Regions from separate parts of the Homo sapiens genome. Here region 1 is linked to region 2. Evidence: fine-mapped expression QTL. Tissue or cell type: whole blood. Region 2 holds a variant in brackets; the other region holds the start of a gene. All regions are shown on one strand. Distances are between the middles of the regions.

Evidence for each region. PIP is the estimated chance that this variant, and not a neighbour inherited with it, causes the effect.
Region 1: C17orf58 starts here. The variant in region 2 is fine-mapped to the expression of C17orf58 in whole blood (INTERVAL, PIP 0.98).

Annotation. Positions count from the first base shown.
Region 1 is chr17:67,991,717-67,999,807 of GRCh38, forward strand. C17orf58 (chromosome 17 open reading frame 58) reads right to left here and starts at 4,753. Exons shown (of 4, transcript NM_001382359.1): 1 at 4,407-4,753; 2 at 1,708-2,268; 3 at 1,328-1,519; 4 at 1-387. The coding sequence starts at 4,482. The coding sequence ends at 197. RefSeq lists an enhancer at 1,379-1,428 and silencers at 1,669-1,728, 1,839-1,918, 1,969-2,228, 3,983-4,072.
Region 2 is chr17:67,904,747-67,912,851 of GRCh38, forward strand. BPTF (bromodomain PHD finger transcription factor) reads left to right here. Exons shown (of 28, transcript NM_182641.4): 9 at 1-94; 10 at 4,836-5,015; 11 at 6,131-8,105. Among named protein-coding and RNA genes, the nearest start is that of BPTF, 83 kb to the left of the region's middle. The variant A/G (reference allele first, on the strand shown) is at 4,193.

The sequences.
Region 1 (8,091 bases), 87 kb after region 2:
GGAGCAGCCCATTTAAGAAGCATCTTGTAAATAACAAAGTGACACCTTCGAGATTACAGTTGCAGCTATGCAAGTCATTCACAGAGTAGCTGAGGGCTCTCTTCTGAAGGAGGACCCATTACATGAAGGTAGACCTTTCATGTCTTGTTGCCGACGTCCAAGTCTCTTGCGGTCCAGAAATGCCAGGATGGTTGTTTCAAATGCATTGGGTATGAATTGCACCTTGAATCTGCCCTTCCCTTTTTCGATTAAACCTTTTCACATAGCTGCTGCTGCTCCTTAGCAGTCCATCCCCTGGACGGAGGCGGCCTCTCAGGACCTGGAGCAGAGCTGTAGGGAGCTGCCGTCTCTTATGGTAGATGTGGCCCATCACAATATACCTGCTGCCTGGACAAAATAACCAGAACATTAATTCATAGTGTCTTTTAAATGCCATGAAACAGAAAATGTAAGGCCTTTAAGAAACGCCTAAGCTGCAATCTATTATCTTGCTGCACAAGTTGAAACTGATATTGAGTCTACAGGCATCTGGTGGAAACAGCCTAGCCACCTTTACAAGATAACCAACCAGGCCGGTGTGGTGGCTCACGCCTTTAATCCCAGCACTTTGGGAGGCCGAGGTGGGCAGCTCACTTGAGGTCAGGAGTTTGAGACCAGCCTGGCCAACATGGTGAAACCCCGTCTCTACTAAAAATACAAAAATTGGCAGGGCGTGGTGGCGCATGCCTGTAACCCCAGCTGCTTGGGAGGCTGAGGCAGGATAATCGCTTGAACCCGGCAGGTGGAGGGTGCAGTGAGCCGAGATCGAACCACTGCACTCCAGCCTGGGCGACAGGGCAAGACTCAATCTCAAAAAAAAAAAAAAAAAAAAAAAAAAAGCAGTATGTAACCGGACCACATTACAGAACAAAGGTCCTTATCACAATCTATCAGGATTTCCCAGAGCACATGTCTAGAAAGATGTGGGAGTGGGTATTCCCCGCTACCAACCCCACATACACACCCAAAAAAGCAGCTTTTCTAAACTCGGTTCTGTACAGTCCCTTCTGGCAATGGTGTTTGGTCGTCCACCCCATTTGTCAACATCTATTTATTGACAGCCCGCTTTGTGCCAACCCTTGCTGTTCTCACCCTTGAGGGTGGGGGCTGACAGGGCTTAAATCACAGAGTGGCCGGAATAATACCTGTCGTCTAAATCCCATTCATGTCATTGTTTCCCATCGCTCCCAAAAAAAGGCTGGGCGACCTACAGCCCGGGCTGTGGCACCCACGTTACAAACGGTGGTATAAAGTACATATGCAGCGTCATTCAGGTCAGTTTCAATACCAGGTTTAAACTCTGGACACGGCTTATTGCAGCTGGAGGAGTCCAGGGCTAACATGTGGACTCGGAAGAAGAAGCCGTCGGGGGTGAGGTACAGGCGGTTCATCTTGTACAGCCCGTCCCGATCCACCAGCAGGGTCACCAGCCGGATGCCCGCGCCCAGCACGTCCACATCGTGCACGATCCCGTTCACCGCTGCTTCCGAAAAACAGTTTGGAGAAGAGCATTACCCCGAGTTCCTCTCCCAGTCCCCCAGGAGGTGGTTTTTAGCAACCGCGAAACGGCCCGCACGGGTCAGGCGCCCTGGGATCTCGCGGGCGGATTCTCCGGGGCTCGGAAAGGCTCGCGGGGCGGCGGGGCGGCGGCGCGGCGGCCGGGCTCACCGAATTCGCTCTCGCAGAACGCCTCGCGTTCGTCCAGATCGGACCGGCAGGCGCGCGCGCAGGGCTCAGCGCCGGGCTCCGCGTCCCTCTGCGGCGGGCTGAGGCCGAAGCTGAGGCTGAAGCGCGGCGGCGGCGCGGGCGCGGGTCCCGGGGCCAGCGCGGCGGCGCGCGGCCGGTTGGGGTGGGCGTGGCCGGCGGAGCCCTCGGTGGCGAGCGCGGGCGGCCGGGCGGCGGGGAAGCGCAGGGCCCGTGAGCGCGCGCGTCGCGGGGCGTCCTCCGACGCGGGCTCGCGGCGCGGCGACGCGCGGTTCTCGGCTTGCGCCAGGCGCGGGCCCGGCGGGCCAGCGGGCGCGCGTGCGGCCTCCCGGAAGCTGGCCTGGTTGTCGGCCGGCGGTGGGGGCTTCCGGCGGCGCGGGTCAGGCCAGGCGCGGGCGGCGGGAGCGACCTCGGCCGCGCGCGGCCGCTGCGGGGCCTCAAGGAGTGGCTGCGCGCGGGGCCCCGGTGTCTCCTCCGCGCTCGGGCAGCCGCGGGAGTCCGGCTTTCTGCTGTGCGGCGGCGAGGCTGTGGGGAGAGAAGAGGAGAGGCGGGAAGGCGGTGGGGGAGGAGAAGCAGTGAGGGGAGGCCGTCGGGGAAAGCCGAGGAAGCCGAGAAGGAAGAAGAGGGAAGGGGAGGCTGAGACGGGAGGCCGAGAGGGGAAGGGAAGCCAGGAGGGGAGGAGGCCGCTAGTGGGGCAGGGGCGCTGCAGAAGAAGGGCTCTGGGAGGGGGAGAGGAGATAGAGGACAAGGGAGGCTTCGCAGGCACCTGCAAGAGGAGAGATGGGAGGGAGGCCCGGAGGCCTGGAAGTGAAGCAGGGAGAACCCGGACGCAGCGTCGCGGCCAAGCGGGGCACGCGCTTCCCAGGCCCCAAAGGAAGAAGGATACGAGGGTCTTGACCTCTAAGATTATAGCTTTTAAAATTACAACCCCCTATTTACTCTAAGACTAAACATGTCTTACAACACTGGTTAGATAACAAACTTTTTTGCCCTTCCTTTAATATATACGTATATGTGTGTATGTGTGCGTGTGCGTGTGTGTGTGTGTGTGTGTGTGTATATATATATATATATATAAAACATATATAAACATCCGCCTCTTTGCTATTTACAGTTTGTTGAGAAAGTACCAAGAGCAAACCCCAGGGGGAAAGGTCTCATATTACAGGTTCTCCTAATTCTTTAAGCGCCCCTGACAACAGAACTATTTGGTTTTCCCATCCATGTTTACACTGTCATCCCGGTCTCTGCAGAATCGAGCATTTGTAAGTGGATTTTTATCTGGCTTCTTGGACACCACTTACTGGTAAACCACAGCTAAGGAAGGTTTTAAAAGCTTGGCTGGGAGGCAGAGAGGCCCCTGGTTAAGTATAAAAGCACACGTCGCTTACATTTTTTTCCCCATTAGATGATGGAGGAAAGACTCCTAAATGGTATGGCATGAAAACAAATTTTTAAAATTATTAATGATTTTCCCTAGTTCTGCAGACAGGTTGGTGAGTAAACCTCAGCCAGCTTGGGAGCTGGGCACCTTTCCATACCAGTTACACAATTTCACCTCCTTGCTTGCCTGGGTCCCAGTGCCCTCCAAACAGGCAAGAACTAGCCTTTATTTTTCTCTCCCCTTGCATTAAAGAGATGGATCTGCCCATTTGCAGCTCTGGCAACACTTCATTTAAAGTTGATCAGTCTTGCCAAATCGATAATCTGCTTTAAAATCAGCTTTCACCCAGCAATAATAGCTGGTTAGAGTTCATGTTTTTGCAAAGAGGTTGATTCTGACTCATTATGTTGTTAAACGGTTGTGCCATGCACAGCTGAATAAAGTTCTGGTGGATATCCAATTCCTGACTGTCAACTGTTGACCTCACAACTGCTTCCCCATTGATATAACCATCTGTTGTCATGGGAAAGATTGTCTGATATTTGGGTTAAATGCCACTGAAGTCATTCAATTTCCATGTGGAAAAATAACCCAGAGTAAATTGCCCTGTGAGGTACGGAAACTGTTTTTCCCAGAGATAGCGAAGCCGACAGAACATCCAAATAAAAGCAAAACAAAAACACGATCCCCCAGAGAACCCCTCATTTCTTCACGGGCTGAGTAACTTAATTTCATTTCGTGCATGAAGTATAAGAGTGTGTGCGTGTTAGTTAAACCCCGGCTCAGGTGTCCCAAGGTTGTGCGCTGGGGCTGCGGGGAGAGCAAAGTGCCCGGGGCTGCCGGATTTCGGCCCCGCTTCCCCCCAGCCCTCCACAGCGCCCCCCGCAGCCCCTGCTCACCCAGTCGAGGGGGGCGGACCCCGCGGCGTCCTGCGAGCCCGGCCCGGGCACGGCTCCCGAAAGGCGCGCCACGACCCCTTTTGACACTTTCCCTCCTCCGTGATGGAGCAACTACTTAACATGCAAAGTTTTCCCCAGCCTGCCCGGCTTGCTCGGGATCATTTCAGTAGCTAAATTGGCTTCTTTCCGAAAAGGCTGCCAAGAGACACGAAACCTTGGGGACACACTTTGCTCCTTTATAAGACGAACGCAGACCCGGGGTGTCCTCTCTTGCGAGCTCTGACCCCCCTCCTCGTCCCACGTTTCACTGAGCCTCCTTCCCAGCTCCCCCCCACAGATCCCCGCTCCGCTCCCAGGGCCCCGCACTACACCAATCTTACTTTTTCTCTCCGCCACCGGTGCTTCGGGGGATGATCCGACGATCAAACAGAGGAGCCAGAAAGCTCTAGCTGTCATTTTTGCAGACAGGGTTCCCAGGCTCTAAAAGTGAGCCTGGTCTTTTGCTTGCTTTCTCTCCCCCAACCCCTTCTCCACACCCCCACCCCCGTTCATGCTAATGAGGGGCAGCCTTTGGGGAAACGGGAATCACTCGCTGAGCAGACCATTGGAACAAAACCGAGCCGCAGGGATTTCTCCCTCTTCCTTCCTAAGGAGGACGAGCACATGGCCTTGCAAAGTTGTCCCCGGGAATGTCTGTCCTGTGATCTGCGGGCGAGGAGAGCATCACAGCCTAAACTTTAAACCTGTGTGCGTTTGCGCGCTGGGGTGGGGGCAGCAAAGGGTGGGGTGACAAGTGCAGAGAATAAGCGTGTTTCGGGACTGAGGGACTGGGTGGGGGAGAACGAGTGACGGGAGCTTTTTTCTAGATTAGGTCAACAACAAATAGGAAAATAGTGCTTAAGACAGCGTGGGTTTGTGGAAGGGAGATTCCAGATGACAGAGAATGTATCCTGGAATGTGTGTGTTAGGCAATTTCTAGAGAAACCAAGTCACTGCTTCCTTAGTAAAACTGTTTCATTATATATCACAGCTCATTGTAACCTCTGCCTCCCGGACTAAAGCGATTCTCGTGCCTCAGCCTCTCAAGTAGCTGGGATTACAGGCATATGCCACCATGCGAGGCTAATTTTTGTATTTTTAGCAGAGACGGGATTTCACCGTGTTGGCCAGGCTGGTCTCAAACTCCTGACCTCAAGTGATCCACCCACCTTGGCCTCCCAAAGTGCTGGGATTACAGCATGAGCCACCACGCCGGGCCCAGAGGTCTAATTATTAATCAGAATGTTGCCTGTTGAGGCCAGGCAGGGTGGTTCATGCCTGTAATCCCAGTACTTTGGGAGCCCGAGACAGGAGGATCTCTTGAGCTCAGGAGTTCAAGACCAGCCTGAGCAACATGGAGAGAACCTGTCTCTACAAAAAATACAAAAATTAGCCAGGCATGGTGGCTCGCATCTGTGGTCCCAGCCACTTGGGAGGCTGAGGTGGGAGGATCACTTGAGCCTAGGAGGTGGAGGTTGCAGTGAGCCGAGATTGTGCCACTGCACTCCAGCCTGGGTGACAGAGAGAGGCCCTGTCTCAAAAAAAAAAAAAAAAAAAAAAGAAGAAGAAGAAGAAGAAGAAAGAAAAGAAAGAGGAGGAGCCAGGCACAGTGGCTCACGCCTGTAATCCCAGCATTTTGGGAGGCCAAGGCAGGCGGATCACGAGGTCAGGAGTTCAAGACCAGCCTGGCCAAATTAGTGCAACCCTGTCTCTACTAAAATTACAAAAAAGTTAGCAGGGTGTGGTGGCACACACCTGTAGTCCCAGCTACTCAGGAGGCTGAGGCAGGAGAATCGCTTGAACCTGGGAGGCAAAGGTTGCAGTGAGCTGAGACTATGCCATTGCACTCCAGCCTGGGTGATAGAGTGAGACTTTTGTCTCAAAAAGAAAAAAAAAAAGAGGAGGAGGAGGAGAACGAAGAAGAAGAAGAAGGAGAGCAGGGCCAGGTGTGGTGGCTCACGCCTGTAATCCCAGCACTTTGGGAGGACAAGGTGGGTCGATCACGAGGCCAGGAGATCCAGACCATCCTGGCTGACACAGTGAAACCCCGTCTCTACTGAAAATACAAAAAATTAGCCGGGCGTGGTGGCGGGCGCCTGTAGTCCCAGCTACTCAGGAGGCTGAGGCAGGAGACTGGCGTGAACCTGGGAGGCGGAGCTTGCAGTGTGGCGCCACTGCCCTGCCCTCCAGCCTGGGTGACAGAGTGAGACTCTGTCTCAAAAAAAAAAAAAAAAAAAAAAAAGAAGGAGAGGAGGAAGAGGAGGAGGAGGAGGAAAGAAGTTTGCCTGTTGAGCATTAAATCAAAGAAAATAAATTTGCTGGCTGGGTGCGGTGGCTCAACCTGTAATCCCAACACTCTGGGAGGCCAAGGTGGGCAGATCACGAGGTCAGGAGTTCGAGACCAGCCTGGCCAACATAGTAAAACCCCATATCTACTAAAAATACAAAAATTAGCGAGTCATGGTGGCGGGCACCTGTAATCCCAGCTACTTGGGAGGCTGAGGGAGGAGAATCGCTTGAACCCAGGAGGCAGAAGTTGCAGTGAGCCAAGACTGCGCCACTACACTCCAGCCTGGGCAACAGCACAGGACTCTGTCTCAAAAAAAAAAAAAAAAAAAGAAAAAGAAAAAGAAAAAAAAGAAAAGAAATTTGCCTGTTGAGCATTAAATCAAATTGCAGCTAAGGAGATGAGCTAATCTTCCCTCATTCAGGTGTTAGAGGAGTGAATTATATTCTCCATCCAAAAGAGTAAACCTCTACAGCCCCTGCAAAGCTTGGGTATACCAGAGTCAGGGTCTCCAGACCCTAGACAAGACCAGATAAACACTAGTAAATTCATGCCCTTGGGGCCCTGTTTATAGATGTCCTCAGATCCCCTTCTTTCACGTGCTCTTTCTTTAAGTCAAGTGGAATAAAATTCACTAGGCTTAAGATTTCTCAGTTACAACCACATCTCTAACATACCTTCTTACCATTACATTCAAATCACCCAGAACCTATTGGGGGTGTTCCCGAAACTCTTCTGTTGCAGGAATGTTGTGAATGCCCTGAAACCCACACCCTGAAATGTAGAGGCAGGGAGCAGGCTGGATGGCTCCCAGGGGCTCCCAGAGGCTCCTGGGGTGGCACCAGCTGGAAGAACCTGCCAGAGTCCAGTCCTGGGTCTTGGGCAGTGTCTGGCTTGAGCCTTAGAAATCACACTAATGGGCCAGGCGCGGTGGCTCACGCCTGTAATCTCAGCCCTTTGGGAGGCTGAGGTGGGCGGATCACCTGAGGTCAGGAGTTTGAGACCAGCCTGACCAACATGGTGAAACCCTGTCTCTACTAAAAATACAAAAATAGCCAGGCATGGTGGCAGGTGCCTGTAATCCCAGCTACTTGGTAGGCTGAGGCAGGAGAATCGCTTGAACCCGGGAGGCGGAGGTTGCAGTGAGCCGAGATCGCACCATCGCACTCCAGCCTAGGGGACAAGAGCGAGACTTCGTCTCAAAAAAGAAGAAGAAGAAAAAAAAGAAACCACACTAATGGTGGAAGGTACAAAGAGTTCAAAGAGACTGATCTATGTAGCCAGAATGCCAGTTTATTAATTTACAATGAGAAATCAAATCAGAAATGCAAACTCATGTCAGCCTGGGTAGCATTCTCTTTCTATAAACAAGCCACAGAGGAAGCCAAGTTATCCTCAGGGTGCTTGGTAATATAAACCAGAGCCTGGGGAGTTTGTCACCTGATTGGAATGTTTAACAGTATTGGTTTCTGACAGCCTAAGTGTTTGTCTCTGCAATAGGTGTGTATACCTGTCAGGAGGAAGAACCCAAGAGACCAACTGGCATTCCCTTCCTTGATAATTTCTGGTATTTTGAGTGTGTGTTTCTGCTTAGCAGATATTTATTGAGCATCTACTCTGTGTTGTATAATAAAGAATTTGAAGTCCAGGCGCAGTGGCTCACACATGTAATCCTGGCACTTTGGAAGGTTGAGGCGGGCGGATCACTTGAGTTTAGGAATTCAAGACCAGCCTGGGCA
Region 2 (8,105 bases):
GGTTGGAGCTGGATTAGTAAAACTCATGTTTATAGGTTTGTTCCTAAATTGCCAGGCAATACTAATGTGAATTACAGAAAGTCGTTAGAAGGAAGTAAGTAATTAAAATTACATGTCCTGCATAATCGTTTCTGCTTTATATTTCTTATAAATTTGTAGTATTTTGACTATATTTTAGATAAAAACATTTTTCTGAAATTTTTATTCGTACTGCAGAATTACTAGTTTAGTTTACTAAAACCCTAAAACTTTAAAAATTACCTTTATTCACAGGAATTTGATGTCTCAGATTTCCGTAAGATTGTAGAATGGAACTTGTTTTTTAGAAGACGCCTCAGCCGCCTGATTATCATTTTTCAAAATCTTAAATTTAGGCCAGGCAGCCAGGCGCGGTGGTTCACGCCTGTAATCCCAGCACTGTGGGAGGCTGAGGCAGGTGGATTACTTGAGGTCAGGAGTTCTAGACTACCTGGCTAACATGGTGAAACCCTGTCTCTACTAAAAATACAAAATTTGCTGGGTGTGCTGGTACACGCCTGTGATCCCAGCTACTGAGGAGGCTGAGGCAGGAGAATGGCTTAAACCCAGGAGGCAGAGGTTGCAGTGAACCAAGATTGCACCACTGCACTCCAGCCTAGGTGACAGAGCAAGACTCTGTCTCAAAAAAAAAAAAATTCAGGCCAGCCACAGTGGCTTACACCTATAATCCCAGTGCTTTGGGAGGCTGAGGCAGGAGGATCACTTGAGGCCAGGAGTTCAAGGCCAGCCTGGGCAACATAGCAAGACCCCATCTCTACAAAAACGTTTTAAAAATTAGCCAGGTGTAGTGCCACATGGCTGTGGTCCCAGCTACTTGGGGGTCTGAGGCAGGAGGATTGCTTGAGGCCAGGAGTTTGAGGCTGCAGTAAGCTATAATTGTGCTGTTGCACTCGAGCCTGGATGACAGAACCAGACTCAATCTCTTAAAAAAAAAAATCTTAATTCAGTACTAATTCACTGAGGAGTCATGTATCTAGTAACCTTAGCATTGTTGCAAGTAAGAGAAAACCAGAAAGAAAGTGATAGAGGCTTCCAAAACACTGTCACATAAATGAGGTTTTTCAGTGAGAACATTTGGACACAGGATGGGGAACATCACACACCGGGGCCTGTCGTGGGGTTGGGGGAGGTTGGGGGATAGCATTAGGAGATATACCTAATGTAAATGTAGAGTTAATGGGTGCAGCACACCAACATGGCACATGTATACATATGTCACAAACCTGCACGTTGTGCGCACGTACCCTAGAACTAAAGTATAATTTAAAAAAATAATGAGGTTTTTTTTGGGGGGAGGGGTTGTTTTTGTTTTTTTGAAATGGAGTCTTGCTCTGTCACCAGGCTGGAGTGCAGTGGCGTATCTGGCCTCACTGCAACCTCCGCCTCCTGGGTTCAAGCAGTTCTCCTGCCTCAGCCTCCCGAGTAGCTGGGACTAAAAGTGCACACCACCATGCCCAGCTAATTTTTGTATTTTTTATAGAGACAGGGTTTCACTATGTTGGCCAGGGTGGTCTCAATCTCTTGACTTTGTGATCTGCCCGCCTCGGCCTCCCAAAGTGCTGGGATTACAGGTGTGACCACTGCGCCTGGCCTATAAATAAGCTATTAATTGAGTTTTTACAACTGGCTAATGAGCTTTAGTATTTAGAATCACCGAACTCTATAGAGATGAACTGCTCTTTTAAAAGATCATGTGTTTTTAAACTCAAGTTCAATGAGCCGATTATTTCACGAGGGTGCCAGGTGACATAGTGAAGACCACATATGCACAGAGTGATAGAACGCTGGCAGGTCCCAAGCCCTTTTCTGTGATTCTTCTCTTACCTCACCACTATCCTGCTCTTGACAGGATTACGGTTTCTTTGCACTCTCTTCTCTTTCTTCAGCCAGACCTTTCTGGAAGAAATCATTCATTTAAATTAAAAATAGATATATTTTTTATATCTATTTTCTCACACCAGTATCTTGCTCGCGACAGAATTATGATTTCTTTGCACTCTCTTCCCTTCAGCCAGACCTTTCTGGAAGAAATCATTCATTTAAATAAAAAATGGATATACCTTGCTAGGTCCTTGGGATATTTAGGTTCAAGTGAAGAAGGTAAAGAATAGGAAAATGCCTTTAAGTCCAGGTGCCATGGCTCACACCTGTGATGGGATGCCAAGGCAGGGGAGGATCAGTTGAGCCCAGGAGTTCAAGAAACAGCCTGGGCAACATGGCAAATCCCCATCTCTACAAAAAATGCAAAAATTAGCCAGACATATTGGTACACACCTGTATTCCCAGTTACTCAGGAGGCTGATGAGGGAGGATCGTTTGAGCCCAGGAGTTCAAGGCTGCAGTGAGCTGAGATGAACCCACTGTGCTCCAGCCTGGGTGACAGAGCAAGACACTGTCTCCAAAAAAAAAAAAAAAACCTTTAAGTCCCAAGAATATTCATCTAGACAGTAGTTCTGTTTTGGGAGGCTTGATTTTTTTTTTTTTTTTGTAATTATTATGGGAAATTTAAAACTACACAAATACAAAGAGAATAATGAACTCATTCAGCTTCAACAATTATCAAAGTTTATCACTTTTTTTTTTTTTTTGAGATGGAGTTTTGCTCTGTCACCCAGGCTAGAGTGCAGTGGCATGGTCTCAGCTCACTGCAACCTCCACCTCCCGGGTTCAATCAATTCTCTTGCCTCAGCCTCCCAAATAGCTGGGATTACAAGTACCCGCCACCACGCCGAGCTAATTTTTGTATTTTTAATAGAGACGGGGTTTTGCCATGTTGGCCAGGCTGATCTCGAACTCCTGACTTCAAGTGATCTGCCTGCCTCGGCCTCCCAAAGTGCTGGGATTACAGGTGTGAGTCACTGCTCCCAGCCAAATTTTATCACTCTTTGTTTAGTTGTCACTGACCACTTTTTTTAATCCTGCAGTGTTTTAAAATAAATCCCAGAAATCATGTTTCACCAGAAGTTCAATATGTATCTCTACGTAGACATTTTTCCATAACCATCATGTCATTATCACACTCAACAAATTAACCGTAATTAACAAATTAATAATCTGATTCTCAGTCCATATTCCACTTGCCCTGGTTGTCTTAGAGATACCTTTTTACTGTAAGCAGTAAACAAGGCCACAGATTGCCTTTGATCCTTTTTTTCAGTCTTTTATTCTGTTATATAAACTTCAAGGAGTCCAAGAACCATTGAAATAGATTACAAAAGTTTATATACATACTTTTTTCCTTGGTAGAGGATCATAGCATTTATCCATTTCTAATAGGGTTCTGTGACACAAAGTATGTTAGAAACCACTGATATGGGCTTTCTGGAATGATCAAATAGATTGTGATAATCCTTCATACACGAGTTTTCTTTCATTTTATTTTTTTATGTGTGTGACAGAGTCTTGCTCTGTCAGCCAGGCTGGAGTGCAGTGGCACCATCTCAGCTCGCTGCAAACTCTGCCTCCCAGGTTGAAGCAATTCTCCTGCTTCAGTCTCCCAAGTAGCTGGGACTACAGGCTCGTACCACCATGACTGGCTAATTTTTGTATTTTTAGTAGAGATGGGGTTTCACCTTGTTGGGCTGGTGTTGAACTCCTGGCCTCAAGTGATCTGCCTGCCTCAGCCTCCCAAAGTGCTGGGATTACAGGCATGAGCCACCACACTCACCCAAATTTTATCACATTTGTTTCAGTTGTCACTGACCACTTTTTTTTTTTTTTTTTTTGAGATGGAGTCTCACTCTGTCACCCAGGCTGGAGTGCAGTGGTACGATCTCAGTTCACTGCAGCCTCCAACTCCCAGGTTCCAGCGATTCTCCTGCCTCAGCCTCCTGAGTAGGGATCACAGTTGCACGCCACCATGCCTGGCTAATTTTTGTATTTTTAATAGAGGCGGGGTTTCACCATGTTGGCTAGGCTGGTCTTGAACTCCTTGTCCTCAAGTGATCCGCCCACCTTGGCATCCCAAAGTGCTGGGATTACAGGCATAAGCCACTACACCCATCCAAATTTTATCACTCTTGTTTCAGTTGTCACTGACAATTTTTTTTTTTTTTTTTTTTTTTGTTGACACGGAGTCTCACTCTGTCGCCCAGGCTGGAGTGCAGTGGCGTGACCTCAGCTCACTGCGACCTCCGCCTCCTGGGTTCAAGCA[A/G]TTCTCCTGCCTCAGCCTCCTGAGTAGCTGAGATCACAGGTGTGCACCACCACACCCAGATAATTTTTGTATTTTTAGTAGAGATCGGGTTTCACCATGTTAGCCAGGCTGGTCTCAAACTCCTGACCTCAGGTGATGCACCCACCTCGGCCCCTCAAAGTGCTGGGATTACAGGCATGAGCCACCGCACCAGCCTATAGTATTAATGTTTATCTTGTAGCTGACTATGTTACTGAATCACAGTTTTTTGTTTTTTTTTTAATTTTTGGACACAGAGCCTCACTCTGTCACCCAGGCTGGAGTGCAGTGGCATGAGCCACCGCACCAGGTCCCCCCCCCCCTTTTTTTTTTTATCCTGCAGTGTTTTAAAACAAATTTCCTAAATCATATTTCACCAAAAATGTTCACAAAGTTTTCTGAAATGTCTGAAGTTCAGGCATTCCTTCTGTGTTTTAGGTCAGCCAGGCATATAGGATTATATGGTACCTTATACTCAATAAGACCTTTGTCTTTTTTTTTTTTTTAAATGAAAAAATGAAACATAACTTGCTGGAAATTACTTGTTTATTTTCACTAAACTTGACATATTAAAGTGCTAATACTCTGGAAATAACGTAAATTATCGTTACATGGTTCTTTTTAGCCAAAAATAATATGGATGAAAATATGGATGAGTCAGATAAAAGAAAATGTTCACGAAGTCCAAAAAAAATAAAAATAGAGCCTGATTCTGAAAAAGATGAGGTAAAAGGTTCAGATGCTGCAAAAGGAGCAGACCAAAATGAAATGGATATCTCAAAGATTACTGAGAAGAAGGACCAAGGTAAGGAGAGTCAGCTGTGGAGGGCAGCCTGGGGGTGATAAGAATGCACTGGATCAGGGTCCCACCACAGGAAAGGTACTGCGTTGTGTTTTCTTGATAACAGCTTTATCAAAACATAATTGATATCCCATACAATTCACCCAATTAAAGTGTAAATTCAGTGGCTTTTAGTATATTCACAAAGTTCAACCATTATTACATCAATCTTAGAACATTTTCATAACCTTGAAAAGAAGCCTCATTCATACCCATTAGCAGTTACTTCCCAACCCCTCCCGAAAGTGCCACCAGCTTAGTGGTCTACTTTCTGTCTCTCTGGATTTGCCTATTTTGGACAGTCCATAGAAATGGAATCAGACAATATGTGGTCCTTTGTGGCTGGCTTCATCCACTTAGCATGGTTTTAAGGTTCATCCATGTTGTAGCATTTATCAGTACTTTCTTTTTGTTTCTGAATAATACTCTGTATGGATATGCCACATTTTGTTATCCATTCATCAGTTGATGGACATTGGGCTGTTTCCTCTTTTGGCTATACGAATAATGCTGCTATGAACATTCATGCAGAAGTTTTTTGTGGCCATGCGTTTTCACTTCTCTTGGCGATATACCTAGGAATGGAATTACTGGATCATATGGTAACTCTGTTTAACCTTTTGAGGAACTACATTGTCTTTTGTAACAAGTCATTTTTAAAAAAAAACTAGATAAGCTAGATAATGCATGTGGCTAGAGATACTTTAAAAAAATATTTTTGGCTGGGCGTGGTGGCTCATGCCTGTAATCTCAGCACTTTGGGAGGCTGAGGTGGGCGGATCACCTGAAGTCAGGAGTTCAAGACCAGCCTGGCCAACATTGCGAAACCCTGTCTCTACTGAAAATTCAAAAATAAGCCAGGCATGGTGGCACATGCCTATAATCCCAGCTACTTGGGAGGCTGAAGCATGAGAATTGCTTGAACCCAGGAGGCGGAGGTTGCAGTGAACTGAGATCATGCCACTGCACTCCAGCCTGGGCAACAGAGTGAGACTCCATCTCAAAAAAAAAAATATATATATATAAATTCCTCCTTTCAGAGTAAAAATTACATTTATATAAATGTCTTTGTTTCACAGATGTGAAGGAGCTCTTAGATTCTGACAGTGATAAACCCTGCAAGGAAGAACCAATGGAAGTAGACGATGACATGAAAACAGAGTCACATGTAAATTGTCAGGAGAGTTCTCAAGTAGATGTGGTCAATGTTAGTGAGGGTTTTCATCTAAGGACTAGTTACAAAAAGAAAACAAAATCATCCAAACTAGATGGACTTCTTGAAAGGAGAATTAAACAGTTTACACTGGAAGAAAAACAGCGACTCGAAAAAATCAAGTTGGAGGGTGGAATTAAGGGTATAGGAAAGACTTCTACAAATTCTTCAAAAAATCTCTCTGAATCACCAGTAATAACGAAAGCAAAAGAAGGGTGTCAGAGTGACTCGATGAGACAAGAACAGAGCCCAAATGCAAATAATGATCAACCTGAGGACTTGATTCAGGGATGTTCAGAAAGTGATTCCTCAGTTCTTAGAATGAGTGATCCTAGTCATACCACAAACAAACTTTATCCAAAAGATCGAGTGTTAGATGATGTCTCCATTCGGAGCCCAGAAACAAAATGTCCGAAACAAAATTCCATTGAAAATGACATAGAAGAAAAAGTCTCTGACCTTGCCAGTAGAGGCCAGGAACCCAGTAAGAGTAAAACAAAAGGAAATGATTTTTTCATCGATGACTCTAAACTAGCCAGTGCAGATGATATTGGTACTTTGATCTGTAAGAACAAAAAACCGCTCATACAGGAGGAAAGTGACACCATTGTTTCTTCTTCCAAGAGTGCTTTACATTCATCAGTGCCTAAAAGTACCAATGACAGAGATGCCACACCTCTGTCAAGAGCAATGGACTTTGAAGGAAAACTGGGATGTGACTCTGAATCTAATAGCACTTTGGAAAATAGTTCTGATACCGTGTCTATTCAGGATAGCAGTGAAGAAGATATGATTGTTCAGAATAGCAATGAAAGCATTTCTGAACAGTTCAGAACTCGAGAACAAGATGTTGAAGTCTTGGAGCCGTTAAAGTGTGAGTTGGTTTCTGGTGAGTCCACTGGAAACTGTGAGGACAGGCTGCCGGTCAAGGGGACTGAAGCAAATGGTAAAAAACCAAGTCAGCAGAAGAAATTAGAGGAGAGACCAGTTAATAAATGTAGTGATCAAATAAAGCTAAAAAATACCACTGACAAAAAGAATAATGAAAATCGAGAGTCTGAAAAGAAAGGACAGAGAACAAGTACATTTCAAATAAATGGAAAAGATAATAAACCCAAAATATATTTGAAAGGTGAATGCTTGAAAGAAATTTCTGAGAGTAGAGTAGTAAGTGGTAATGTTGAACCAAAGGTTAATAATATAAATAAAATAATCCCTGAGAATGATATTAAATCATTGACTGTTAAAGAATCTGCTATAAGGCCATTCATTAATGGTGATGTCATCATGGAAGATTTTAATGAAAGAAACAGCTCCGAAACAAAATCGCATTTGCTGAGTTCTTCAGATGCTGAAGGTAACTACCGAGATAGCCTTGAGACCCTGCCATCAACCAAAGAGTCTGACAGTACACAGACGACCACACCCTCAGCATCTTGTCCAGAAAGCAATTCAGTTAATCAGGTAGAAGATATGGAAATAGAAACCTCAGAAGTTAAGAAAGTTACTTCATCACCTATTACTTCTGAAGAGGAATCTAATCTCAGTAATGACTTTATTGATGAAAATGGTCTGCCCATCAACAAAAATGAAAATGTCAATGGAGAATCTAAAAGAAAAACCGTCATCACAGAAGTCACCACGATGACCTCCACAGTGGCCACAGAATCAAAAACTGTGATCAAGGTAGAAAAAGGCGATAAGCAAACTGTGGTTTCTTCCACAGAAAATTGTGCAAAATCCACTGTCACAACCACCACTACAACAGTGACCAAGCTTTCCACACCCTCCACAGGCGGCAGTGTGGACATCATCTCTGTAAAGGAGCAGAGCAAAACCGT